Homo sapiens: one gene and its partners. The protein of the gene in region 6 interacts with the protein of the main gene of each other region in a pairwise test. Each region holds a gene or a part of one and is shown on either strand. Other genes may lie near its edges. The genes, in order: ZSCAN5B, P4HA3, SYTL4, OSTF1, ASXL1, ZBTB7B and ZNF277.

What was found.
Region 1: the proteins of ZBTB7B (region 6) and ZSCAN5B interact in binary tests that used the Homo sapiens proteins (3 or more experiments, as listed by UniProt).
Region 2: the proteins of ZBTB7B (region 6) and P4HA3 interact in binary tests that used the Homo sapiens proteins (3 or more experiments, as listed by UniProt).
Region 3: the proteins of ZBTB7B (region 6) and SYTL4 interact in binary tests that used the Homo sapiens proteins (3 or more experiments, as listed by UniProt).
Region 4: the proteins of ZBTB7B (region 6) and OSTF1 interact in a two-hybrid assay, tested with the Homo sapiens proteins (one large-scale study listed by BioGRID).
Region 5: the proteins of ZBTB7B (region 6) and ASXL1 interact in a two-hybrid assay, tested with the Homo sapiens proteins (one large-scale study listed by BioGRID).
Region 7: the proteins of ZBTB7B (region 6) and ZNF277 interact in a two-hybrid assay, tested with the Homo sapiens proteins (one large-scale study listed by BioGRID and IntAct).

What each region holds. Positions count from the first base shown.
Region 1 is NC_000019.10:56,194,984-56,198,955, reverse strand, and holds the start of ZSCAN5B (zinc finger and SCAN domain-containing protein 5B), read left to right. Parts: upstream 1-1,172; 5' UTR 1,173-1,222; intron 1,223-3,972. UniProt on the Homo sapiens protein: May be involved in transcriptional regulation.
Region 2 is NC_000011.10:74,273,641-74,277,140, reverse strand, and holds part of P4HA3 (prolyl 4-hydroxylase subunit alpha-3 isoform 1 precursor), read left to right. Parts: coding exon 1-156; intron 157-3,500. UniProt on the Homo sapiens protein: Catalyzes the post-translational formation of 4-hydroxyproline in -Xaa-Pro-Gly- sequences in collagens and other proteins.
Region 3 is NC_000023.11:100,725,622-100,729,121, reverse strand, and holds part of SYTL4 (synaptotagmin-like protein 4), read left to right. Parts: intron 1-3,500. UniProt on the Homo sapiens protein: Modulates exocytosis of dense-core granules and secretion of hormones in the pancreas and the pituitary. Interacts with vesicles containing negatively charged phospholipids in a Ca(2+)-independent manner.
Region 4 is NC_000009.12:75,144,014-75,147,513, forward strand, and holds the end of OSTF1 (osteoclast-stimulating factor 1), read left to right. Parts: intron 1-2,669; coding exon 2,670-2,728; 3' UTR 2,729-3,252; downstream 3,253-3,500.
Region 5 is NC_000020.11:32,427,831-32,431,330, forward strand, and holds part of ASXL1 (polycomb group protein ASXL1), read left to right. Parts: intron 1-297; coding exon 298-418; intron 419-494; coding exon 495-592; intron 593-1,507; coding exon 1,508-1,601; exon of another isoform or gene 1,602-2,070; coding exon 2,071-2,223; exon of another isoform or gene 2,224-3,312; coding exon of another isoform or gene 3,313-3,346; intron 3,347-3,490; coding exon 3,491-3,500.
Region 6 is NC_000001.11:155,005,802-155,009,301, reverse strand, and holds part of ZBTB7B (zinc finger and BTB domain-containing protein 7B), read right to left. Parts: intron 1,166-3,500; exon of another isoform or gene 1,077-1,165; coding exon of another isoform or gene 1,020-1,076; intron 709-1,019; exon of another isoform or gene 355-708; coding exon of another isoform or gene 316-354; intron 1-315. UniProt on the Homo sapiens protein: Transcription regulator that acts as a key regulator of lineage commitment of immature T-cell precursors. Exerts distinct biological functions in the mammary epithelial cells and T cells in a tissue-specific manner.
Region 7 is NC_000007.14:112,339,195-112,342,694, forward strand, and holds part of ZNF277 (zinc finger protein 277), read left to right. Parts: intron 1-648; coding exon 649-691; intron 692-1,677; coding exon 1,678-1,852; intron 1,853-1,860; exon of another isoform or gene 1,861-1,928; intron 1,929-3,366; coding exon 3,367-3,500. UniProt on the Homo sapiens protein: Probable transcription factor. Involved in modulation of cellular senescence; represses transcription of the tumor suppressor gene INK4A/ARF, perhaps acting via the Polycomb group (PcG) complex PRC1.

The DNA of each region.
Region 1 (3,972 bases), on a different chromosome or scaffold from region 6:
ATGAGAAAATGCACCAGAAAATAATTGTCACAACTGTTTGGCAAAATGACCTTGTATCGAGCACTTTATTGACCCAGTCTTATTGCATCTTCAAAACAACACATCAGGAAGGTTCTAGTCACAAGAAGTTTGAAGTTCCCAGAGTGAAGCGGCTTAAGATTTTCCAAGGATTTAAACCAGAATCAGTGTAAAATTAACAGCCCTCCAATTTGTCCTAAAGGTTAGACGAGAAGGTTTCCTCTGAAATTAAAATGAATGAGTCACTACTTGAATGGATTAGTGTCATCCAACTGATGGTGTGAACTTCCCAAATTGTAATCTAATCCTGCCTAGCACTTAATTATCATTCCACATTAACTCCATGATCCACACAGTAAAATTCACACCCACCGTTAAGGCTTTTCTTGCTTGAGAGCCCTAACTGAGGGGGCTGAGAACTAGGGAACCCCGTAGGACCCTCAGTGTATCTATAAACCACCCTATCACCGTCCTGGAATGAATGCAGAGTGGGGACCATGTGCCTTTCTCTGGTTCCCACTGCTTTTATATAAGGCTGATATCAAATCAGTGATTTAGTTTAGTTTGAACAAAGCTTTCACATGCCAATTCCAAGATTTTGAAAAAAATAAAAAAGTAAAAAATTATCACAAACATTCATTACATATCAACGAGTGTCCACAATTTTCAACATCTTGGAATTCGCGTGTGAAAGCTTCGCTCAAATGAGATTAAAAATGAGATTAAATCACTGGTTTGATATTAATCAACCAACTCTATTTTGAATTTTTCTTTTTTTTTTCTTTTTCCGTTTTGTTTTAATAAGCGAAGTCAACCAGCTCTTAACACGTCCTTTACTTGTTAGGATATTACTGTCTGTGGCATGAGGGGACCCAAAGTGGTTAAAACTTGCAGATCTATATTTTCTGAGGCCTCCACATACTTCAGCAATATGACAACTCAGTAGAGCGGGAAAACCTGTATTATTTGCACAGTAGGCACGTTTAATACATTAATTTCCTGTGGGTGGGGTTTCAGTGGGAAATGTAATCAACGCCGATTACGAAAATGGACTCTGTGGCCCTAAACCAATCACGGCGCGGCGCAGGGAACCGGAAACGCGGCCTGGAGTCCCGCTTCTCCATAAATAGACGCAGTTCAGCTCCAGGCCGGTTGGAGAGCGCATCCCAGACCGAGAAGGTCGGAGGCAGAAGCCGGGAAGGAGGTGAGTGTCCAGCGGCGATGGCTGTGGGGTTTCGGAGCTGGCATGCGGGGGGTTGGTTTCAGAAAGTTTGGGTTTATTTTCTCATGCATTTATTTTCTCGGAGACTTTGTGAAGGCAGCGGGTCTCCTTTGCACCCCATGATTAACTCTGACTGGCGATGAAGTGCTTCTGTAAACTAGGAATAATATTAACTTTCTCGGTCGGGCCCAGTGGCGCACGCCTGTAATCCCAGCTACTCTGGAGGCCGAGGTGGGCAGATCACGGGATCAGGAGTTCAAGACCAGTCTGACCAACATGGTGAAACCCCGACTCTAACAAAAATACAAAAATTAGCCGGGCGTGGTGGCGGGCGCCCGTAATACCCGCTATTCAGGAGACTGAGTCAGGAGAGTCGTTTGAACCCAGGAGGCAGAGGTTAGGGTAATACCCGCTATTCGGGAGACTGAGTCAGGAGAGTCATTTGAACCCAGGAGGCAGAGGTTGCAGTGAGCCGAGGTCGCGCCATTGCACTCCAGCCTGGGTAACAAAGCAAAACTCCGTCTCAAAAAAAAAAAAAGGAGAAAAATAAAGTAATAATGTTAACTTTCTCATCATGGTTAGGTTTTGTTTCATTTTATTTTTCAGAGACGGGGTCTCGCTCATTTCCCAGGCTGGCCTGGAACTCCCAGGCTCAAGCTATGTGCCCTCCTCGGCCTCCACCTAGCTGGGGCTGCAGGAGCACACCACCACACCGCCCGAGTGCATTTTTTTATTTACTATAGAGACGTGGTCTCGCTGCTTTGCCCAGTCTGGTCTCGAACTCCTCGGCTCAAGCAATCTGCCCGCCTCAGCCTCGATCTCCGCTTTCTGAGCAGGGGCGCTTAGGGAACCTGGCGGGAAAACCTCTTTAATTCCCAGAATTTCAGGCTGCCTTTTCTCATATCTGTATGCTTTTAAAAAATGTATCGATTTACTTAATAAATAAACAAAACGAGATGGCCGCTGGATGTGTCTCCCAGGCTGGAGCACAGTGGCACAATCGCGGTTCACTGCTGGGCTGAAGTGATCCTGCCACCTCCGCCTCCCAGAGCACTGGGGTGACAGGAGTGAGCCATCGCACCAGGCCTAATTTACTTTCAAATTGAGAAATATAAATATATAATGGTGTATATGTCCGGTGCACAGCATAGTGTGTCAAGGTGTGTACGCATTGTGCAACGGCTAAATCGAGCAAACTGCCATAGGCTCTACCTCACTGTCTTATCATTTTTGGACAACACTTGAAATCGACTCCCTTAGCAATTTCCAAGTATACGGTACATTGCTGTGAACTATAGTCACCATGCTGTGCAGTAGACCTATTTAACTTTATTTCTTTTATTTTTTTAAAAAAAAGTTTTAATGGCCAGGTGCGGTGGCTCACACCTGTAATCCCAGCACTCTGGGAGGCCGAGGCATAGGGATCACTTGAGTTCAGGAGTTTGAGACCAGCCTGGCCTACATGGCGAGACCCCATCTCTACTAAAAATACAAAATTTAGCCGAGAGGGGTGGCTCACGCCTATAATCCCAGCTACTCGGGAGGCTGAGGCAGGAGAATCGCTTGAACCCGGGAGGCAGAGGTGGCAGTGAGCCCAGATCGGCCACTGCACTGCAGCCTGGGGGATAGAGTGAGATTCTGTCTCAAAAAATAAATCAATAAAACGAAATAAAAATAAAAATAATTTTAAGTAGGCCAGGTATAGTGGCTCACACGTAATCCCAGAATTTTGGGAAGCAGAGGCAGGAGGATCACTTGGACCCAAGAAGTCAAGGCTGCAGCAAGCCAGGATGCACCACTGCATTCCAGCCTGGGTGACAGAGCAAGACACTGCTGCAAGTTTAAAAACAAAAATAGATAACTTTAAAAAAAAATTCCACTTTTATTTTAGGTTCGGTGGGTGCCTGTGCAGATTTGTTACGTGAGTGTACTGAGTGATGCTGAGGTTTTGGGTATCACTGAACCTGTCACCCAGGATATGAGGATAGTACCCAGTAGGTAGTTTTTCCACCTTCCCACCGTCTGTCACTTCAGAGCTTCACTGTTTTGGAGTCCACGTCCTGATTTCCTTTCCTCTGTGTACCTGCCCCGGAGCGGGATTGCCGGCTCATGCAGTTGTTGGACTTTCAATTTTCTGAGGAGCTTCTATACTGTCTCCCATATCGGCTGCTCTAATTTACATCCCAGCACAGGGCGCAGAGGACCCCTTTCCCCCGAATCCTCACCAACACTCGTTCCATGTGTCTTTTTGGGAACAGCCACTCTAGCAGGCGTGAGGGGTGCCTTGTGGTTTGGATTTGCATGTCCCTGATGATGAGTGATGACGAGCACCTTTTCCTAGACCTGCTGGCCATTCACATGTCTTCATCTGAGATGTCCACACAGGCGCCTTAAGCCCTTCTAGTGGGTTATGTGTTTTCTCGCTCTGGAGGAGTTTGAGTTGCTTATGTTTTGCACAGGAGCCCTGTGAGATGTGTGGTGTGTAAATATTGTCTCCTCCTCTGGGTTGTCTCCCGCCTCTGCCGATTGTCTCCCTGGCTGTCTCTCTGTTCTGCACTTGCTCAGAGTCCTTCCAGGAAGTGTGGGGTACTCGCCCTCCAGGCTTCCAGTGACCTTTCCTGAGACCCTCCTGCCAGTTTTTTCTCCCCTCTGCAGACCTTCAGGTTGCTTCCCCCACCTGTGTCTAGGAAAGCAGGGCTGTGTTCTCATAGCTGTTGAACTTGGGTGATAAT
Region 2 (3,500 bases), on a different chromosome or scaffold from region 6:
TGGCTGAAGGACACTGTTGACCCAAAACTGGTGACCCTCAACCACCGCATTGCTGCCCTCACAGGCCTTGATGTCCGGCCTCCCTATGCAGAGTATCTGCAGGTGGTGAACTATGGCATCGGAGGACACTATGAGCCTCACTTTGACCATGCTACGGTAATGGTGGAGTCAATGACCAATCCCCTGGGGTAGGGAGCCAGGGCATTATTTATTTCTCTGAGGCAGAGCTCTTGTAGGCTCTCAGGGAATACTAAGTGAAATCTTAGAACAAAGGTTCTTTTTCCAGAAATATCTGAAAGCCTTAGTTTCAAGCATATTGTTGCTGACTCATTTTCTTGTCTGCCACCATCTCCCTTCTAAAATTTGCTGGTGAGGGAAGAATGTGGCTTGTCATGGAATCATCGGACTGCTCCACTCAGGGACTTCCTAGTGAGGATTGTCCTTCCTCCAGTAACTCTTCTAGCCTCATGATCTCAACTGGCCATCTTTGCTGATAATAGCAAATAATTTTTTTAAAATTTTAGATTCATGGGGTACATGTGCTTGTTTTTTATTTACGTATTTATTTATGTATTTATTTTTTTCTTTATAGGCAGCATCTTGCTCTGTTGCCCAGGCTGCAGTGTAGTGGCACCATCATAGCTCACTGCAGTCTTGAACTCCTGGGCTAAGTGATCCCCCCATCTCAGCCTCCCAAGTAGCTCTAGGACTACACCTGGCTAATTTAAAAAAATTTTTTTTGTAGAGACAAGGTCCTGCTATGTTGCCCAGGCTTGTCTTGAGCTCCTGGGCTCAAGCGATCCTCCCACCTCAGTCTCCCAAAGTGCTGACATTACAGGAGTGAGCCACTGCACCCAGCCATACTTGTTATATGGGTATTGCATGTGTAATGGTGGGGACCACACTTCTAGTGTACCCATCACCCAACTATTGAATGTTTTACCTGACACGTAATTTTTGAACTCTCACTCCCCTTTCACCCTCCCCCATTTTGCAGTTTCCAGTGTTTGTTACCTCCATCTTTATGTCCATGTGTACCCATTGTTTAGCCCCCACTTATAAGTGAGGACATGCAATATCTTATCTTCTGCTTTTGAGTTAGTTCACTTAGGATAATGGCCTCCAGCTCCATCCATGTTGCTGCAGAGGAAATTATTTCATTCTTTTTATGGCTGGATAGTATTCTGTTATGTATATATACCTTATTTTCTTTATCAAATCAACCATCGATGGACATTTAGGTTGGTTCCATGACTTTGCTGTTGTGAATAGTGCTGCAATAAATATCTGGGTGCAGGTGTTTTTTCTGTAATATAATACTTTATTTTCCTTTGGGTAGATACCCAGTAGTGATTTTTGAGGATTAAAATGACCTCCCCAAAATTGATCTATAAATTGAACCCCAGCTTTATAAAAATTCCAGGAGGTTTATTTTTGTAGAAATTAGCATGCTGATCCTAAAATGTATATGGAAATGCAAAAAACCTAGAGCAGCCAAAACAATTTTGAAAAAGAAGAACAAATTGGAGGACATACACTATCTGATCTCAAAACTTAATATAGAGCTACAGGAATCAAGGCAGTGTGGTACCAGTGTAAGGAGAGACACATATGTCAATGGAACAGAACAGAGTCCAGAAACAAACCAACACATTTATGATCAATTGGTTTTGACAAAGGTGCCAAGGAAATTCAATGAAGAAAATACAATCTTTTCAATAGACAGTATTGGAACAATTTAATATCTATCTGCAAAATAATAATGACTTTACACCCTTACCTTACACCATATATGAAAATTAACACAAAATGGGTCATAGATGTAAATGTAAAACTATAAAACTTCTAGAAGAAAACATAAGAGAAAATTTTTGTGACCACAGGTTAGGCAAAGATTTCTTAGATATGACACCAAAGTATGATCCATAAAAGAAGAAAACAACTGATAAATTGGACCTTATCAAATTAAAATTCTTTGCTTTTCAAAAAACATCATTAGAAAAGGAAAAGACAAGCCACCAACTAGGAGAAAATATTTGCAAATCATATATTTGGTAAAGAACTTGTATCCAAAATATCTATAGAACTTTTATAACTCAGTAATAAGATAATTCAATTTTTTTTAATGGACAGAAAGTTATTTGAGTAGGCACCTCTCCAAAAAGGATAAATGAATGGCTAAGAAACATATGGAAAGATGCTCAACATCATTAGGGAAATGCAAATTAAAACCACAATGAGATAGCACTGCACTCTCTTATGATGGCTACAATAAAATAAGATTATACCAAGTGGTGGTGAGGATGTGGAGGAACTGAAGCTCTCATACACTGCTAGTGGGAATGCAAAATTATACAGACACTTTGGAAAAAAGTTTGATGGTTTCTTAAAAAGTTTAAGATTCACCTACTTATGATCCAGCCATTTCACACCTATGTATATTACCCAAAAGAAAAAGAAAATATGTCTCTACAAACATTTGTACAGAAAAGTTTATAGTAGCTTTATTTGTAATAACCAAGAATTGGGGCTGGGCACGGTGGCTCATGCCTGTAATCCCAGCACTTTGGGAGGCCAAGGCAGGCGGATCACGAGGTCAGAAGATCGAGACCATCCTGGCTAACACAGTGAAACCCCGTCTCTACTAAAAATACAAAAAAAAAAAAAATTAGCTGGGCATGGTGGCAGGCGCCTGTAGTCCCAGCTACTTGGGAGGCTGAGGCAGGAGAATGGCATGAACCTGGGAGGCAGAGGTTGCAGTGAGCTGAGATCACGCCACTGCACTCCAGCCTGGGCAACAGAGTGAGACTCCATCTCAAAAACAAAAAAAAAAAAACAAAAAAAAAACCAAGAATTGGAAACAGCCCAGATGTCTGTCAACAGGTGAACGGATAAACAAATTTTGATATATCTGCACAATGGAATGCTATAGAGAGAAAGCAGATAAGTGGGTTGCCTGAGGTTGGAGGTGAGAGCAGGGATTGACTCCTAACTGGCATGAAGGAGCTTTTCAGCAGATGGAAGTGTTCTGTGTTCTAAACTTCAATTGTGGGAAAACTCATTGAACAGTAGGCTTACAAGGGGTGAATTTTATGGAATATAAATCATATCTCAAACTGTTCCATGACAAAAAAAAAAGAGTATGTCTCTTCAGCAAGTAATTGGAACTCTGGCCTTATGATTTGGTATTTCTACAGAATAATTGTCTGTAATATTTTATATATTAATTTCTATATTTCACAGAGAACTCAAAGGTGCAATTAACCCCTCATATAGTACTTTCACTACTGACAAGTAGTTCTGTTTGGTAGTAGACAATTCTTTTATATAAGTATCTAATAAATTAGTAAAAAAAAAAATTGTATTGAGTACCTGCCAGCAAAGACGGGCACATACTCCAGTAGGTGTATATCAGAACTATATCCCATCTTTGATGCCCCCATTTTACTTCTATTTGTATTAATAGTGGAATCCTGCCTGTCCCTCTGGTGCCATCTGCA
Region 3 (3,500 bases), on a different chromosome or scaffold from region 6:
CTGATTTTTGCTTTGAGATTGCATTCCTGATGCCAACTTTGACCTAGTTGGAAGTACTTCCTCTCTCTTACTTTTTTTTTTTTTTGAGGCAGAGTTTCGCTGTGTCGCCCAGGCTAGAGTACAGTGGCGCGATCTTGGCTCACTGCAAGCTCTGCCTCCTGGGTTCATGCCATTCTCCTGCCTCAGCCTCCCGAGTAGCTGGAACTACAGGCGCCCGCCACCATGCCCGGCTAGCTTTTTGTGTTTTTAGTAGAGACGGGATTTCACCGTGTTAGCCAGGATGGTCTCGATCTTCTGACCTCGTGATCTGCCCTCCTCGGCCTCCCAAAGTGCTGGGATTACAGGCGTGAGCCACCGCTCCTGGCCTCTCTATTTTTTAAAAGTATGAGTCTCTGGGTGGAAATCTCTAAAGTTTAAAAGTGGAAATGTAAAAATGTTGTGCTTCTTGTTGGTAGGAAGGGGGACTGCACTGGGAGGAAGGGGTGTGGATTGTCAGATGTCTTGAGGCTTTTCAGGCTTCTCGCAAGATCAATAAGAGGCTGGAGAAAGTTACTGTGCAATGGGGAAGTGAACAGCTCAAAAGAATAACGGATGGCACAAATTAGGCTTCTGGTTTCAAGTTACCCATAGCCTTTTAGGTATGAGGTGGTTATTGGATTATGGAACTTTATGGAAAAGCCGTAGCTGAGTGCTATTTGTGTTGTACTTAACTAGTTTTCTACCAGGATGACTGTGCAGTCTGGAGAAACCACTGTGTAACATAAAAGAAAAAAGTGCTATTCTGTTTAAAAGTGTTTTGAAATGTTCAGAAAGGAAGAGGCCAGAATCTCTTAGAAGACAGACTTGGAAGGAGTTGGGCCCTTCAAAAGGTGGTAAATATGTGATTCTCATCATTTAATATATGTTAACTTATTTGAAACTCAAATTTGTACAAAAAGCTGACCAGCTTCTTTTTCTACTAAATTTGTCTCCCCAGCCTTTGAACATTGCAGTGACCTGGGGTTCAGTCCCTGGACTTTTCTCCATCTAAAATCTTCACAGAGGCTCTCATCCAGCTGCATGGCTTTGAAGAACATCTGTCTAGACTGTTGTCACTCCCAAATTTATGTTTGTTACCCAGGCCTTTCTTCTAAGCTGCAGCCTCATATATCCAATGACCTATTTGACATCTCTGCTTGCCTATCAGATAGACCTCTCAAATGTAACGTGGCCAAAACGGCACTCCCGATTGCCCTTGTATTCCCACCCTCTTCCCTCAGCACTCCCTGTCTCAGTAAAATGTCACCATCATCCATTCAGTTGCTCAAACCAAGAACCTAAGATCACCCTTGATTCTTCTTTTTCTATCACTGCTCTCCACCCAATTTAATTCATGAGGGAGTCCTGCTGACCTGATCTTCAGACTGTATCATGTGTTCTGCCACACGTCTCCATCTCCTCTGCCTGTCACCCTAGTCCAAGCCACCACACGTCTGCCACAAACATTCTTGCATAATGCTCAAGGATATATATATACACAAGTATTTTTGTGGGATAGCTTTCTAATAGGAGAATTGTTAGGTCAAAGGACATATACATTAAACAATTTAAATAGGCATCACCAGAGTGACATCTAAGAGGGTTTACCCTTTCACCATTGCGAGTGGTTTTCCTCCTGCCCTTGCTGAGGATGGATGACGCTTTTAATTTTTTCCAATCTGATAGGTGAAAAATAGTATCTAACTGATTTAACTTGGCATTTCTCTGATCACTAGTGTGGCTGAGCATCTTTTCATTTGTGCTAGCTATTTGTATTTTTCCAAGACTTGCTCCTTTATATCCTTTGCACATTTATCTTTTGGGTTATATATTTGATTTGTTTGTAAGAACACTATATTTATTAGTTATATTTACCCATTGCCTATTATATAGTGCAAGTTTTTTTCTCTCTAGTCTGTCATATGTCATAACTTTGTTCATGATGTGTACCCCTCTCGTAATCAGATAAAACCCACTATAAAACATTTAAAAAACACGTTCATTAGATTTGGCAATTAGGAGGCCAATGACAACATCAGTGCAGCAGGAGGAGAGAAGGCAGATCGTAGAGGGTTGGGCAGTGAGGACTGAGAAGGACTGATAAAAAATATGGTAGATACACATGGACATGGAGAGTGGGATGATAGACAATGGAGACTCAGAAGGGTGAGGGGTGGGAGAAGGGTAGATGATGAGAAATTTCTTAATGGGTACAATGTATGTTATTCAGGTTATAGATACCCTAAAGTCTCTGACTTAACCACTGCATATGTAACAAAATTGCATGTGTACCCCATAAATTTATATAATTAAAAACATGTAGTATATACATTGAAGAAGCTTGGCTATGATGGGAAGGAGAGAGTGTTCCTTATAGACAGTAAGGCACAGGGGATAAAAAGGCTGTTTTATTTAATTTTGTTTTACTTTAAATATAAGAGATAGATGAGCCCATTTATGTGCAGATGGCATACAGCTTGATGATGCAAGGTCCCCGAGAAAGTCAGAGGGTGGGAGTGCCAGAGTGAAAGAGGAGAAAAGACTAGCCTTAGAGAAAAAGTGGTGGCTCTTCCATTGAAACAAGAGGATTCACCAATCCTCTTGGTAAAAACTATGGAGAAGGAAGTACCTGTGGAGGGACAGGATTTTGAGAGAGCCCCTCCGCCCCCAACAAGAGAGTGAAAGGTTCACCAGAGAGTAAAGAAGGCAAGAATGGTGAAGGGTTGGAATAGCATTTGAGAGAGACGAAAAGAGGAGTTCTTTAGGGGCATATCATCCAGGTTATGTATGTGTATTTCAAAATATCATGCTGTACACCATAAATAGACACAATTTTTGTCAAGTATACCTCCATAAAACTGGAAAAAAGTTTTAAAATGGCTTGGGTAACTTGAATTTGTCTCTGCCTCAAGTCGCAGAACCCTGTATCCATTCTGTCTGGCAGCACTCATCAGACCAGGAACAGAGTGTGGACAATCTAGTATGGGGAATTTTTTCCGGGTGGCCGTGACAGAAATAGGGAGAGGGCTGGAGATTGGATGGCCCTGGCAGAAGAATAGTTGAAATGATGGACCACTGTGGCTTTCATATTCATATCTGTGACTATCTAAACCTAACTTGACCTTGAGTAATTTTTAAGAAGTAGAAAATTTCCATGGCATCTACACTGCTTCTTGTTTGTAGCTCTATCGATTCAGGCATCAGAATACCATTAGTATCAGTGTCTTTAAACTCATCAGAAAGCGTGATTTGATTTACTGAGGGCCTATGTTGTGCCATGCTCTGTGTTGATTTACTGAGGATTTACGTTGCACCAACTGAGAGCCTACAGTCAGGATCCTACAATGTAGATTTATCCATCTATCCATCCATCAACCCAGCTAGATGCTTGAGGTATGGCTGAGAAGAAGGTAGACAATGGCCATTTTTCTCCTGGAACTTATTTCGGCAGGGGAAGTGTATATTAAATATTGTATCACATA
Region 4 (3,500 bases), on a different chromosome or scaffold from region 6:
AGGACACAGAATATGGGCAAAACTTAGGATAGTGGAGTAGAAGGGGACAGAGTTTTCCTATTTGTCTCTCAGGCTTTAGCTTAGAAAGCTACATTTTACCAAGTTGACATGAAGTCCTGAAGGTCCTGGGTGTGTGTTGGGGGAGAACAAAATATATTCCTCCCACTTCTTGTGAACTCCTCTTGAGGAGAGTGGAGAAGAATAGAGTCAACCTGGAGACTTCCAGTAGCTTGAAGGCTGGTGTGAAGTCAGTGAAACATGGCCAGGTGTGGCGGCTCACACCTGTAATCCCAGCACTTTGGGAGGCAGGGAGGATTGCTTGCATCTGGGAGTTCAAGACTAGCCTGGACAACATAGTGAGATGACGTCTTTACAAAAAAAATTAAAAACTAGCTGAGTGTGGTGCTGCATGCCTGTAGTCTTAGCTACTTGGGAGGCTGAGGTGGGAGGATCACTTGAGTCCAGAAAGTCAAGGCTGCAGTGAGCCATGATTGTACCACTGCACTGCAGCCTGGGTGACAGAATGAGATCCAGAAAAGAGACTTGGCCTCTGTTCTGCTTTATCTTTCCTTCTCTCTCTTGCAAGATAAATCGGCTTCCACCTCCCTTGTACTGATCATCCCTTCTTCTTTTCTTTTTCTCAATAATCATTTTCCAAAACATGTAAACATGAAAACTTTTTTTTTTAAAAGAGCATTAGCATACCTAAAAAATAATTCCTTAATATTCCTTAATATCATCAAATATCTTGTCCTTGTCCAAACTTCCATTTTCTCATACATCTTTGTTTTTACTTATTTATTTACTTATGGTTTATTTAAGTCAGGATTCACATAAGGTCAGTTTGTGATTGGTAGATATGTCTCTTTATTTATTTTTTAAGCAATAGTTCCTTTCCCTCTCTTCTTCCCCCTTTTTAACCTTGCAATTTATTTATTAAAGAAACTGGGTCAACTCACTTGAATTTCCCATTGTGGACATTGCTAACTGCATTCCCATGGTGTTATTTGTCATGTTCCTCTGTCCTTTATGTTTTTGTCAATTAGTGTTAGATTTAGAGGTTTGATCCAATTTAGGTTCATTCTATCAATCAATCAATCATGAATCAATCATGTATCTGCCTGCCTATCTATCTATCTATCTATCTACCTATCTATCTATCTAATCTATCTATCGGTTTGATCTAATTTAGGTTCTATCCATCTACTTACCTACCTACCTACTTACCTACCTACCTAGCTATGTATCAAATCTAGCTAGCTAGCCAGAGGTTTGATCCAATTTAGGTTCAATCTATCCATCTCTTCACCTACCTACCTATCTACCTACCTACCTAATCATGTATCTTTCTTGGTAGTAGAAGGAATAATAAATCATATAGAATATTGTGTTCTTTTATCAGGGGCACATGATACCTGGTTGTCACTCTTCCTGTGATGTGACATCCATTGATGATCGTTGCCTAGATCTGTTACTTCACTAAACGGCACAAAATGATGATATTCTAATTAAATCACTTCTTTTTGAGTTATTAGCTGGAACATTCTATTAGGAAAAGTTTTCCCTCATCAATTGTTTTGTTACGCAGAGGAACAGTTAATGTAGCAAGGGCAGGATAAATGCTTGATTTTTGACCTTTATTTAAGAGGTTTTAAAATAATAAGCTGGTCTCTGTCATCCTCCAAAGGGTGACAGATGAGTTCTTTTTGGTGTGCCTTGAAATATTTAATGTGCTTTAATCCATTCCAATTAGTAGCTTTATCAATAGCCCATCTTTGGCTAGTGGAGGCCTCTTTAAGTTGAATCTCAGACCCTTTCACGTGATGCTGTCTTTGTTAGGATGCTTGCTTTATGACATGACTAGGGTTCTAGGTCCATCCCTTACACTTCCTGCCCCATACTTGGAACCGGTCATATGTATAATAAGCTTCAGAGATGTGATACTTAGAGATCATGAAGATCTGGGTGCTGTGACATATATTTATTGAACTTCAACAATGTGCTTGTGTTTGCATTCTGTTTTTCCCACTAAAATTATACTTGGGCTAATCTGTTGCTATAGGAATTTGACTAGACAGTTGAAGGGGTGACTGTGAAAGATCAGATGTCTTCCTTTTGAGTCCTGTTCAAGTTTGCTTGAACATTTGATGGGGTCCAGCTCTATTTTAAAACTTTTCCCCCCCATTTCAGCCTTTTGCTTTATTGTCGGTGTTTTCTACATTGAAATGGAAGCTTCTTTGTTTTCATTCTTTCTTTTCCTTTTTCCCCTTCGGTAGTTAACGTCCTACCTAGTGACTTTGCCTTTAGGCAAGACCTCAGGCTGTCACTGGGAGAGGAGGTTGGAAGCTCAGTTGTCAGAGTGGAGTGCTGCTGGTGGTGTATCATGTTGGTCATGGTGCCTGTGGCTAGGCCTTTCTGTTGGAAATGGATGCATGGCACCTAGGACCAAAACTTCTGCATGACTGTGGAACGCATCATCAGCCTCTGTGGCAACAGAAACTTAATGGTTAGGCTGAAAAGCAAAAGCAGAGAAAGATCCTCAGGGAAAGTACAATCCCTGGGTCAGATGGAAGATTCTATTCTAATTTAAGAGCTTTGAAAATGAAAAAATAAAATCTGAGCAGTTTATAATTTCCCTATTTTGCTTTTTTCCCTCCTCTTTCTTTCAGATGCAGTTCGAACATTAAGCAATGCCGAGGACTATCTCGATGATGAAGACTCAGATTAATTCCTTTCTGGAGCTTTGAGATCTAAAACTTCTGTTGCTTTTGCCATTCCAAAACTTTGTCTTTGCCAGAAAAGTGTTGGTAACTATAAAGAAAATTATATATGAACACGGCAGTGTTGCACTGTGTTTGAGTAGAACGTGTAAATGAATTGTTCCCACCTTTGGTTTGCCAGTAAGTGACTGGATTCTTGGCACATTTATGTTCACCAAAGTAGAACAAGAAGATATTATTTCTATTTATCAAGCAAAAGGAATTTTAAGATTTTTTTTTTTCTTTAAAAACAAATTAGGATTTTTTTTTTTTTTTTTTTTTTAGTTAAAATGCTTTACCTCAATGGTTGAGATATTTTGAATGGATTTTTCAAGGGGGGGAAATGCTTATTATAATAATAAACCAAAATACTTAACAGAAAATTGTCAGCTATTCTGACAAAAATAAACATTTTGAGAGACTTTATTTCTTTTGTCCGTTTCTGTGGTATCACTCATTGTCGTTAAGTAAGTAAAGCTTTTTATATTTAGGTAAGAACTGATTTTATTTTTTAAATTATATTTTATATTTATTAGCACAGAAGAATAATGAGAGCCACATTTTAGTTCAACTTCTTGTGTTAGCTTTGATCAAAGTCAGGACAATAATCATTGAGAAGGTGCATGTCTAATAAAATAGGTAAATTTAATAATTGTGAGACTTCCAGTTTTTATCTCCAAGGTTGTATTTAGAGTGGAGAAACCCAACAACTCATTACAGTTTCGCTAAGATTTGAAAGGT
Region 5 (3,500 bases), on a different chromosome or scaffold from region 6:
AGCAGGGCCTTGATTCCTGCTCCTTAGCACTCCACCCTCCCCAGAACTAACATGGTATAGCTTATAGGAGGCACCCTATAAATGTTTAATGAATGTTTGAATGCAAAAGTGTATCTAACTTTCTTAATGATATATTTATGAAAAGAACTTGCTGAGAAAAAGGTCAGTTAGAAAGGGTTAGGAACTTGTCAGTATTCTAAATCCCTCTTTTTCAAAAGCATACACATTTAGGAATGACTGCCTTGCTTTAAGAATTTGTAGGGTTTTGTTCACCTGAGTTGTACCTTGCTGTCACAGAAGGATGCCCTGCAGTGGTCTCGCCATCCAGCTACAGTGGAGGGAGAGGAGCCAGAGGACACGGCTGATGTGGAGAGCTGTGGGTCTAATGAAGCCAGCACTGTGAGTGGTGAAAACGATGGTAAGGACCCTTTAATGGATGGGTGAGGGAGCCACAGCAGGCACTAGGGACTAACCTTTATTTTCCTCTCTTCCAGTATCTCTTGATGAAACATCTTCGAACGCATCCTGTTCTACAGAATCTCAGAGTCGACCTCTTTCCAATCCCAGGGACAGCTACAGAGCTTCCTCACAGGTAAGGAAGAGGTAGAGCCTAGCCTGGGAGGATGAATGATGACAGGTATAAGGCAAGATCCCTCCTTCTCCTGTAGTGAGCTGTGAACATGTTCAGAGAGTGAAGAATAGAAGTCTGGTCTCCAGCTGTTAGTAGCATTTAACAGGGGGCCGCAGGAAAAGTGAACAGTAGGTTTGAGCAGAGTAAGTTTTTTCTCTTTCTTTACCTTGGCTGAGTGATTTTGTTCATTCTTTTTTTTTTTTTTTTTTTTTTTTTTTGAGATGGAGTCGCGCCTGTCGCTCAGGCTGGAGTGCAGTGGCATGATCTCCGCTTACTGCAACCTCTGCCTCTGGGGTTCAAGCAATTCTCCTGCCTCAGCCTCCCGAGTAGCTGGGATTACAGGCACGTACCACCGTGCCTGGCTAATATTTGTATTTTTAGTAGAGATAGGGTTTTGCCATGTTGGCCAGGCTAGTCTCGAATTCCTGACCTCAAGTGGTCTGTCCACCTCAGCCTCCCAAAGTGCTGGGATTACAGGTGTGAGTCACCATGCCTAGCCTGATTCTGTTCATTCTTGTAATATACACGTGAACATTCAGGGAGAAGTGTGGTTAGTGCAGAGTAGAGAGAACAGGAGATTGGGAGTGAGCAGTTTGAATGATAACCCTGCACTTACTAGCCTTGAGACTTGGGGAAAATTCCTTACCTGTAAAATGGGGATAACAGTACATTTTTGTAGCTTGGAATGATGCTTGGCACAGTGACCAGCACGTAGCTCAGTAACATTAACCAGTGCTCTTGTCAGCATTATTTGACAGATCTGGTTGAAGACGAACTTCATTTTACAAGAGCGTGAGTAGAGATAGTGTCGCCAGGGAATGCTTTTGTGGCTCTGCAGTTGACTTGGGCTCTCTTTTGTTCTCTCTTGGAACGCAGGCGAACAAACAAAAGAAAAAGACTGGGGTGATGCTGCCTCGAGTTGTCCTGACTCCTCTGAAGGTAAACGGGGCCCACGTGGAATCTGCATCAGGTATGTGTAAACTCATGGTTGTGATGCTTTTTCCTCAGGTCCTGGGGACCTGGCCTCCCTCTGTCAGCAGTTTCTGACCTAATAGTGCGATACTAGGAGAGCTGTCGGGCCACAGGCAAGAGCCCTGCCAATGGATGAGGCCTGCCATAGGTTCTAGTGCTGGGCTCTGCTGTGTGCCTTCCTCTTTGTCTCCCAGGGCAGTCGTGAGGATCCAACGGAGGATTTGATTATGCCAGTGCTTTGTAAAAGGTGTAGTGCTATACAAATAAAGATGGCAGTTTGGCACCTGTAAGGTGATATTTTAAAGCCAGACCATGAAGTGGTGGTTTCTCTCAGCCTAAGGCTGGGAGATGGAAGCATCCCAGTATTGCTGGCAGCATCTCAGGGAGAGCTGGGAGAAATGAGCTTGTCTGAGAGCCATGGGCGCGGCTTGGTGATACTTTTGACCAGTGGAATGCTGTGCCTTCAGGGTTCTCGGGCTGCCACGCCGATGGCGAGAGCGGCAGCCCGTCCAGCAGCAGCAGCGGCTCTCTGGCCCTGGGCAGCGCTGCTATTCGTGGCCAGGCCGAGGTCACCCAGGACCCTGCCCCGCTCCTGAGAGGCTTCCGGAAGCCAGCCACAGGTGAGTGGCGTGGCACTTATTTCTCTGCCTGTAAAGGGGGCCCCTGCAGGCCTAGTGAGAAGATGATGTCTTCTATTCCAATTCCTTTACCAGTTTATTTTTACTTCTTGGGTGGCCCTCTATTTTTTGTTTATTTTTACTTTGTAATTTGCTTATTTCATTTGTAGCTCTCTGCTAAACTGTGAGAACTCCTTTCAGGCAGAGATGATGCCATACTGTTTCTCGTATGTCCCTGTAGGCCTAGTCTATGCCTGCCTTGTACTGCATAGTAAGTGTTTGAGTGAGTGAAAACTGCTTCTGAGCTTCTCAGTGAAGAATTCCAACACCCCTTTTCTCTCTTCGGTAGCATGTTGCCACATTTGTTCCCAACATCTGTAGTCTGTATCAGACGCTCCCTTTTTTACAACCTAGTCAGTATGTTGAGTGGAAGCATGTGTTGAATTTTGGGGATGCAAACAAATTCAGTAGTGCTATTATCTATACCTCCCACCCCTCACCCCACCCCACCCCCATTAGGGTTATTTGCAATATTAGTATGCTCTTTGCTATTTCAGGATTTAATTCTTAATGACCCACATGCTGGTTTTTTTTGTAGATGAAACCATTAAGAAGACAAGCTTTTGCTTCTGAGAATTAGAGTAAACCTTTGCCCATGTGAGAACTAGGTTTGCTGTCTTGCTGCTTTTCCAGCTCATCAGCAGTGCTCAATCTAAGGTCTCACAGGTCTCTAGTCCTAGTGAGTTTTTCAGATAAAAGTAACATTTGCTGAGGCTTCTGTGAGAGGTATTAGCATCTCAGTTGGCTTTGAACAGTCCTTAGTACATTTCTGCATGGAGATCATCCCTCTCCAGCCCATTCACAGAAGGCTTCTGCAGATTTTTCTATAGTATACTAACTAGATTTACTTTTAGATAATTCTCATGATTTCTCCAGTTGAGCTTTGTGGAGCCTGTTCTCCAGCTTTGGAGGGAAGCTCAGAACCTGCCCCTTGCCTGATTTTCTGTGGGAAGTGTCCTTTTCAGGCTGTGACACAGCACGGTACAGAGTTTTGTCTGAGGAGATGCAACCCCAAGTGTTCTCCTGGGTTTGATGGCAATGACAGTAACCTGGAAAGAATATACAGGTTAGGATGGACTGGACAATTGAGCAGATTGTGTGCAGATAACTCCTGGGTAGCTTGGGTGCTGTCACCAAAGTTTTCCCATCAGTTGGCATTTGTTTTTTCTTTTAAAAAGCTGAAATCTATACCTTGCTTCAAAAATCATAGGTCAAATGAA
Region 6 (3,500 bases):
CCCAGCCCCAGAGGACACCCCAGCCCGATCTCCGGAGCCCGGCTCTCTGCCAGCCTGTCCAGCCTCCTGGCCTGGCCCAGCAATCACTCAGTCCCTATAGGCCCCTCTTCTGCCTCTCCTGATCTGCTCGGGTCCCCTTAAACACTGAGGCCTCCCCACATTCCCGCTTCTCAAGCCCTCAGTTCCCTAAACTCTCTTGTGAAGTCTGGGCACCCTCTTCCTGACCTGTTTTTCAGTCCTCTGACCCTTGGCTAATTCTAGGCCTCCAAGCCCCCCTGGGGCCTGATCTCCCAAGCCAGAGCAGGGCCTACTCACCTGAACGCTGAGGGGCCTGGCGGCAACTCCTCCTGGCCCCTGGGGGCAGCAGGTTGGGACAGGTGGGGGAGGGCCAGGCTTGGGGGGAGGTAGGGTGGCTGTTCCCCGCTCCAGCTCCCTCCTTCAAAGGGGCCGCCCACGACCTGGCCCAGCCCCTCCCCCCTACAGCCTTAACCCTCTGGGTGCTGTCCCCCCTCCCCCCAGCTTGGAGGGAGGGGTTACCGGAGGGCTGGCGGCGTGGGAGAGGGCCCAGAGTCTCTGCCTGTGGTGCCTGAAGCCCCAGCAGAACCCACCCACTCCTGTCCTTACTCAGTCCTAAAAGAGGAAAAAGGTGAGGGGTAGGAAAGGTAGGAGCTGGGACAGTCCAGGAGGACAGAGATGAGGAGGAGCAATGGGAGAGGCTACTGGAGGTGGGACCAGGAGAAGGAAGAAGGGAGGGGAGGGGACGGAGGCAGCTGTGGCTAGAAGAGGGAGGAGGGGAACCCTGGACAGTCAGTGCCAGGGGTGACAGGTGCCTGGGTCCCAGCCCCTCAGAGTATGTGGGATGGGGACCACAAGGAAGCCCTCTAGACCCCAGCAAGCTCCTCAGTCCCCCTGGGAGCTGGCCGAATTCTCCCTACCCTGTACTGGGCTGGGGCCCTCAGGGGCTGGGCAAGGCGGCACCCCGCCCTCCCCATAGCCTCACCCCAAACCCACTCACATACCACAGTTCCTTGCCCGGGTGCCAACCCCTGCCAACCAGGCCAGGGGGCAGCACTCATGCCAGCCCCCAATAGCCAGGGGGATCAGGGGGAACAGAGCTGGCCTGAGGGGGATAGACAGATTGGGGGAGCTGTGGGCACCGAAAGAGGAAGGAGCTGGGAGGGGGCATCTGCTGGGAAGCGCCTAGCCCCACCCCTTGCGCAAGCTGCTGCCACCCTGGCCGGTTGGGTGGGACCCGCCTGGGCCTGAGGGGCAACTCAGGAGAGCTCTGAGCCCAGACATGGATGGGCCACCAAATTTCACTTAAACAACTCCTGGGGTCCCTTATTCCTGGAATGAGGGGTGCCCTAGTGACCCCCAGACACTAGGCCATCCCAAATCCTGCTAGGCTTGGGGGTACCATAGAAATGCCCCCTAAAATATCCCCTCCCCTTTCCCCCAACAGCTGCTGGCTCAATGCCGCTGGCCTGCTGCCCCTCACCAGCTCCCGGCCCGGTTGGCACCTACCCACCAGGATGCTGGCAGTCCTGCCCTCCTCTCCCTCCTACCCCCCTGCTCCCAGCGCCCCATGCCAACTGTGGGCCTGAGGTGGGGGAGGGTCACCCTGTGCCTTGGTGCCAGCCAGACGGGCCCAGGCCCCTAGGCCTTACAGATAAGGCCTAAGACCCTGTTCTCAAACCACCTCCTCAAGAGGTAGCACACTGGTCAGGGCCTACACAGAGAGAGCCTAGGAGGCAATGGACAGCCCTGTGAGTAGTTAATGAAGGCTCCACACCCCAGGGTGGGGGCCAGTGTCTCTCCCTACCACCAGGTGCCAACCTCCCGGCATTCCCCCTGCCCAAGCATTTGCTTGGGCACCAAAGTCCCTGCAATTCCTGAGAGCCCTAGTGCCTGCAGCCTGCAAGGGAGTGGGGTGGGGCTGCTCTCTGCCCTTTGATCCCCATAAAGGGAGGGAACCAGCCTAGAGGGCAGGGGGCAGGGAGGGAGTTCATGGGGCCCCTCTGTTTCACCCCTGCCAGGGGCAGCAGGGCAGGGTGTGGGCATCTTTTGGGTGGGGCCCTAAGGTGAGGACAGGTAGCATGTCTCAGCAAGGGAGATGGATGTCAATCATAGGTACACAGCATCCCATGGCAATGCGATAGCAAGAATAAAGTGGGGGGATGCAGAGGGTACCCACATTCCAACCCATCCCAGTTCTGACTTTCACCTTCATCCAGAAACACTTCCAGACTCAGCCAAATTGAGAGCTCAAGGACTACAACTCCCAGTGTGCACCACAATTGCTTTGTATGTACCTTGGGAGTTGTAGTCCCCCTTGAGAAGCTCTGGGTTCTCCTCTTCCCCAGAGCCTTGCTGATGGGTGAGAAGGGCAGATGACTTGGTCATGAATCTCCAAGGGGGCTAGGTTTAAGAAGAGGTAAAAGGCTAGGATGTCCATGGTGGAGGAAAGAGGACCCCTGCTCCCAGGCAAAGGGGGAGGAAAGGAGGAAGGAAGGAGGAGAGGATGTCTGTTGAAAGGGGCATATGGGTGGGGAGGAGTTGGGGGGACGGTGGAAACAGGAAGGAAACTGAAGCCAGAGACATGAGGTCGAAAGTAAGGGCCTGGGGGAGCCCCACTCTGAGGCCTGTCAGGGACTGGGATGGCATTTCCCCATGTCATTCTGTTGGCCTGGGAGGAAGAAGAGGATCAGTGATGTCAAAAGATAGCAAATTGACATATTTATGGGGGATCACTGTTTCATTTGCCTGCCATCAGCCCTCTTTTGCCTGGGGCACCTTCGACCCCTGAATCTGGCACAGGTATTTGCTGACTGGGAAGCTCTGAAGGCTGACCTGGTTCTGGGGAAGATAGCAGGCAAAGGAAGGGGTTTGGGGAGATCAGGGCTAGGCCTGATGGTGAATATGGTAGAGGTATATGTGGGGTTAGGCCCAGGTGTGGTCAGGGCAAGTGCTGGCAAATGAGAATGCTATCCTCCATAGCAGAACCATGGCATCTGGAGGCCTCAGGGAAGAGAGGGCTAAGATGTCCATCCCAAACTATGGGACAGGATGAAGAGGGCAGCCCTCTCTGGTCTCCCTGGGGAATTTGTTAAAGGTAGCTTTGTCCCTGTGCCAGTGAATATTAAAGATGGCAACTCAGGGGGCCAGGTGGTAGCTGGGTGCCTTTCCCTAGTAGAGGTGGAAGTCAGAAGTGGGCAGAGGACCTGCTTTGAAGCCACTTTTCCTGGGCTCCCCAGGGCTCTGGGACAGATGCTGGCAGGCCCCAGCCAAGACTCTTGCCAAGACCTAGGCCTGGCTGGGTGTGGGGGTCTTTCTTGTCCCCACCCCACCAAACACTTGATGGTGGATGACAGCAGCTCTATCCCCTTCCTCCCAGTCCCCCGGGCCCGCCTTGGCGCCTGGCCGCTTCTGTGTTGGCAAGAGTGGGGGGGAGGGGGCAGCGAGGCAACTTCAAACTGTCCGGGCAAAACGTCAAGTTTACT
Region 7 (3,500 bases), on a different chromosome or scaffold from region 6:
TATCTTACCTACACTTTTATCACACTGCAGAATGCATACATAGACTTCTACATTTTTAGAAGGCTACAAAATGGATAACATTGTAAATTATAAAAACTATAGATATAAGCTATGAGCAATTATAATGTTGTTGCTGTTCTTTGATATGGAGTCTCGCTGTGTCACCCAGGCTGGAGTGCAGTGTCACGATCTCAGCTCACTGCAACCTCTGCCTGCTAGGTTCAAGCGATTCTCGTGCCTCAGCCTTCTGAGTAGCTGGGATTACAGGCACCCACCACCACACCCAGCCAATTTTTGTATTTTTAGTAGAGACGGGGTTTTGCCATGTTGGCCAGGCTGGTCTCAAACTCCTGACCTCGGGTGATCCGCCCACCTCGGTCTCCCAAAGTGCTGGGATTATAGGCGTGAGCCACCGCGCCCGGCCCAATTATAATGGTTTAACTGATTGACATGACTTGTTTGGACTATGCTGTAAAAAAGTTGGGTATGGAGGGAAGTAGTTAGACTTGGAAGACTTCAAAAGCAGAAGATACCGAACTCAGACTGAGTTTCTAAACTACTCAAACTCCTGTGAATAAGTTGTTTATAACTTCAGCCTGAAAGATTAAATAATTCATATGCTTACAGATGTATTCATTCCTTTTTTAGGATGCACACGAATTTGATCTTCTCAAAATAAAGTCAGAACTTGGTAAGTTTGATTCAGAGGTTTTTTTCTGTGATGCTTCATTTTTTATAAACCATCCTGTAAGCTATGCCTATGTTCAGTAGCTATGATTGGAGAGTGCACCACCAAAACATGTCTCTCTATAGATGGTCTTGACAGAACTCTCTGTGAAGCAGTGATGCTCAACCATAATAGTCAAATATGGTTTTTGGTTTCATATACTCCTTCTTTCTCTTTCCTACATATATGAGTGCTTCAAGTGAAATATAAGTTAGTGGTTAATAATATATCATAAATTGGAGGGGGCTAGTGGAATATGGATTTTTAAGTCAAACTAGAGTTCAGATTCCAGCTCTGGCACTTACTGGCTATGACATTGGGCCTCAGGTCAGAAAAATGTTATGAGGAGTGAATAATGTATGGTAAATGGCTACTGCACTGCTTAGCAGTATAGCTAGGATTGTTTGTTATAGGTGTACCCAATGTATCATTCTAAGTATCACAACAATAGAACGATTTGGGGCATTAAGACATACGTAAAGTACTGACTTGCTAATAGATCTAAGACAGTAAAAAACTTACTTCTCACAGCTCAGCTCAGTCACTGCTTTCCTAGGTCCTTGGATGTGTTACTTTGCTGCTTTTATAGACATATATATACATTGTTTATATAATTAGCTTAGTAGTCAAGCATGGGCTTTGCAGCTGACAGCTATCTATGCGATGCTAGGCAGTTTCCTAATATGTAATGTAGGTATGATACTACCTATCTGATAGGGTTTTATGAAGATTAAATGTATTAATACATGGAAAATTATTAGAATAGTGCCTAGCTCATAAGCCCTGTGTAAATATGTGCTGTTATTATTTGGTATCTATTATTATGCTTTATAATTGTACTGCCTCTTCAGGTTGATTAATAAAAATAAGTGGCTCCTTTAAGAAATTATAATAGTGCAAAAAATGGGTCTGAACAGTTGTCTAATGATTCTGTATTTTGTCATTTTCAGGATTAAATTTCTATCAGCAAGTGAAACTGGTCAATTTTATTCGGAGGCAAGTTCACCAATGCAGATGTTATGGCTGCCATGTGAAGTTCAAATCCAAAGCAGACTTAAGAACTCACATGGAAGAAACTAAACACACTTCGCTGCTCCCCGATAGAAAGACGTGGGATCAACTGGAGTACGTACTGCAAAACCAAATGTGCACTTCTTACTCCAACTCTTTGATTTTGTCCCTTTATTTAATTTCTTTAAGCCTACAGAAAAAAAAGGAATACATATTTATTATAAAAAGTATACATCAGTACAGTGTGGGGAAAAATGTAAAAATATTCAAAATGCTTATTTTTAAAATAATCCCCCTCTTACAAATGAAACCAAGTATTTTTCAGTATTTGTGATATGGAGATAGATACATATGTAGAGAGATGAAGTAGATACAGATTTTTTAAATTATATTTTATTAACAAAATATTGTAAATATCTTTCAATAGCCAGTATCCATCTGTTGCATCCTTTCTAATGGTTGCTAAATATCCATTGTATGGATATAATCTATTCTGCGAGATACTTAGGTTGTTTCTTACTTTTTGCTATTATAATGATACAGTGAATCTATATGCCTACATTTTAGCACACTTATCTAATTATTTAATTAAGCTGAACTCCTAGAAATAAAATTACTATGTCAGAGTTTGCACACTGCTAGGACTTTTTGTATATATTTTGTATATTGGCACTTGAAAAAATTAAGCAGTTGGTCATCTGTTGTTGGATTCCCATGTATCCTTTGCCAGAACTTTGTGGACTGGTTCCCAAGTATCCTTTGCCAAGAACCTTCTGGACTGGTTCTCACATCGTTCTGGATAACCTCAGTCGAGGGCTCCTCTGAGAGACTGTGGGGTTCTAGCTGCCCAGAGCTCCTTCTGTTCTTAGGGAATGTTAAGTCAGTTCCCCCAGAACTTTAACCAGAAAGTTCTAGTTTTTCTCCTTCAGAAAATCCCACACTTGTGAGGGTACCCTGTTTTTATGATCCTTCTTATATAAATTAAAATTTGTAATATTCCAAAAGTAACTTCAAAATGTATTCAGAGAAGGAACCAGAATAACAAACTTTATATTCCGTAAGTGTTTCCTTTTGTGATTACCTAGAAAGAAGGAACTATTAGGCTGGAAAACAAAACACAAGGAAGAGCTTATTATTCTCAATTATTTGAATAATTTGTGTTTGAAAAATTAACTATATTTGAAGTTTGTTAACTTATAAGGAAGAACTAGGACCTTTGAGTAGAAATGAGAAAGATGTCATTTTTAGCTTCACAGGAGGTGTATCAAACAACTAGATCTACCCACTACTGGGGTCAGCTACCTTCGAAGATAGTGTGTTTTGTTATCATGATAGATGATCAAGCAGAGGCTAAGTGGCCAGCGGACAACTCCAGAGGCAACTCTGGAGGGTGGGAGGTCCACGATCTTGGTTTACCAAATCTGGATAGTAGATTTGGTAAGGTTGATGTCAGCCAGTAAAAGTCAAAGTGAAAGCAATCAGAAGTTGTCTCCAGTATAGCCTTTGCAAAATGCTATGAAATTGTTGGCAAGGATACCTGACAAAATTATAGTAAATGTGTACATTCAGCTACCTGGACACTGTATTAGCTTGGTAATTTAATACTATGTATCTGTGGTTGTTTTCAGGTATTATTTTCCAACCTATGAAAATGACACTCTCCTGTGTACACTATCTGACAGTGAAAGTGACCTGACAGCTCAGGAACAAAATGAAAATGTTCCCATCATCAGTGAAGATACATCTAAACTGTATGCTTTGA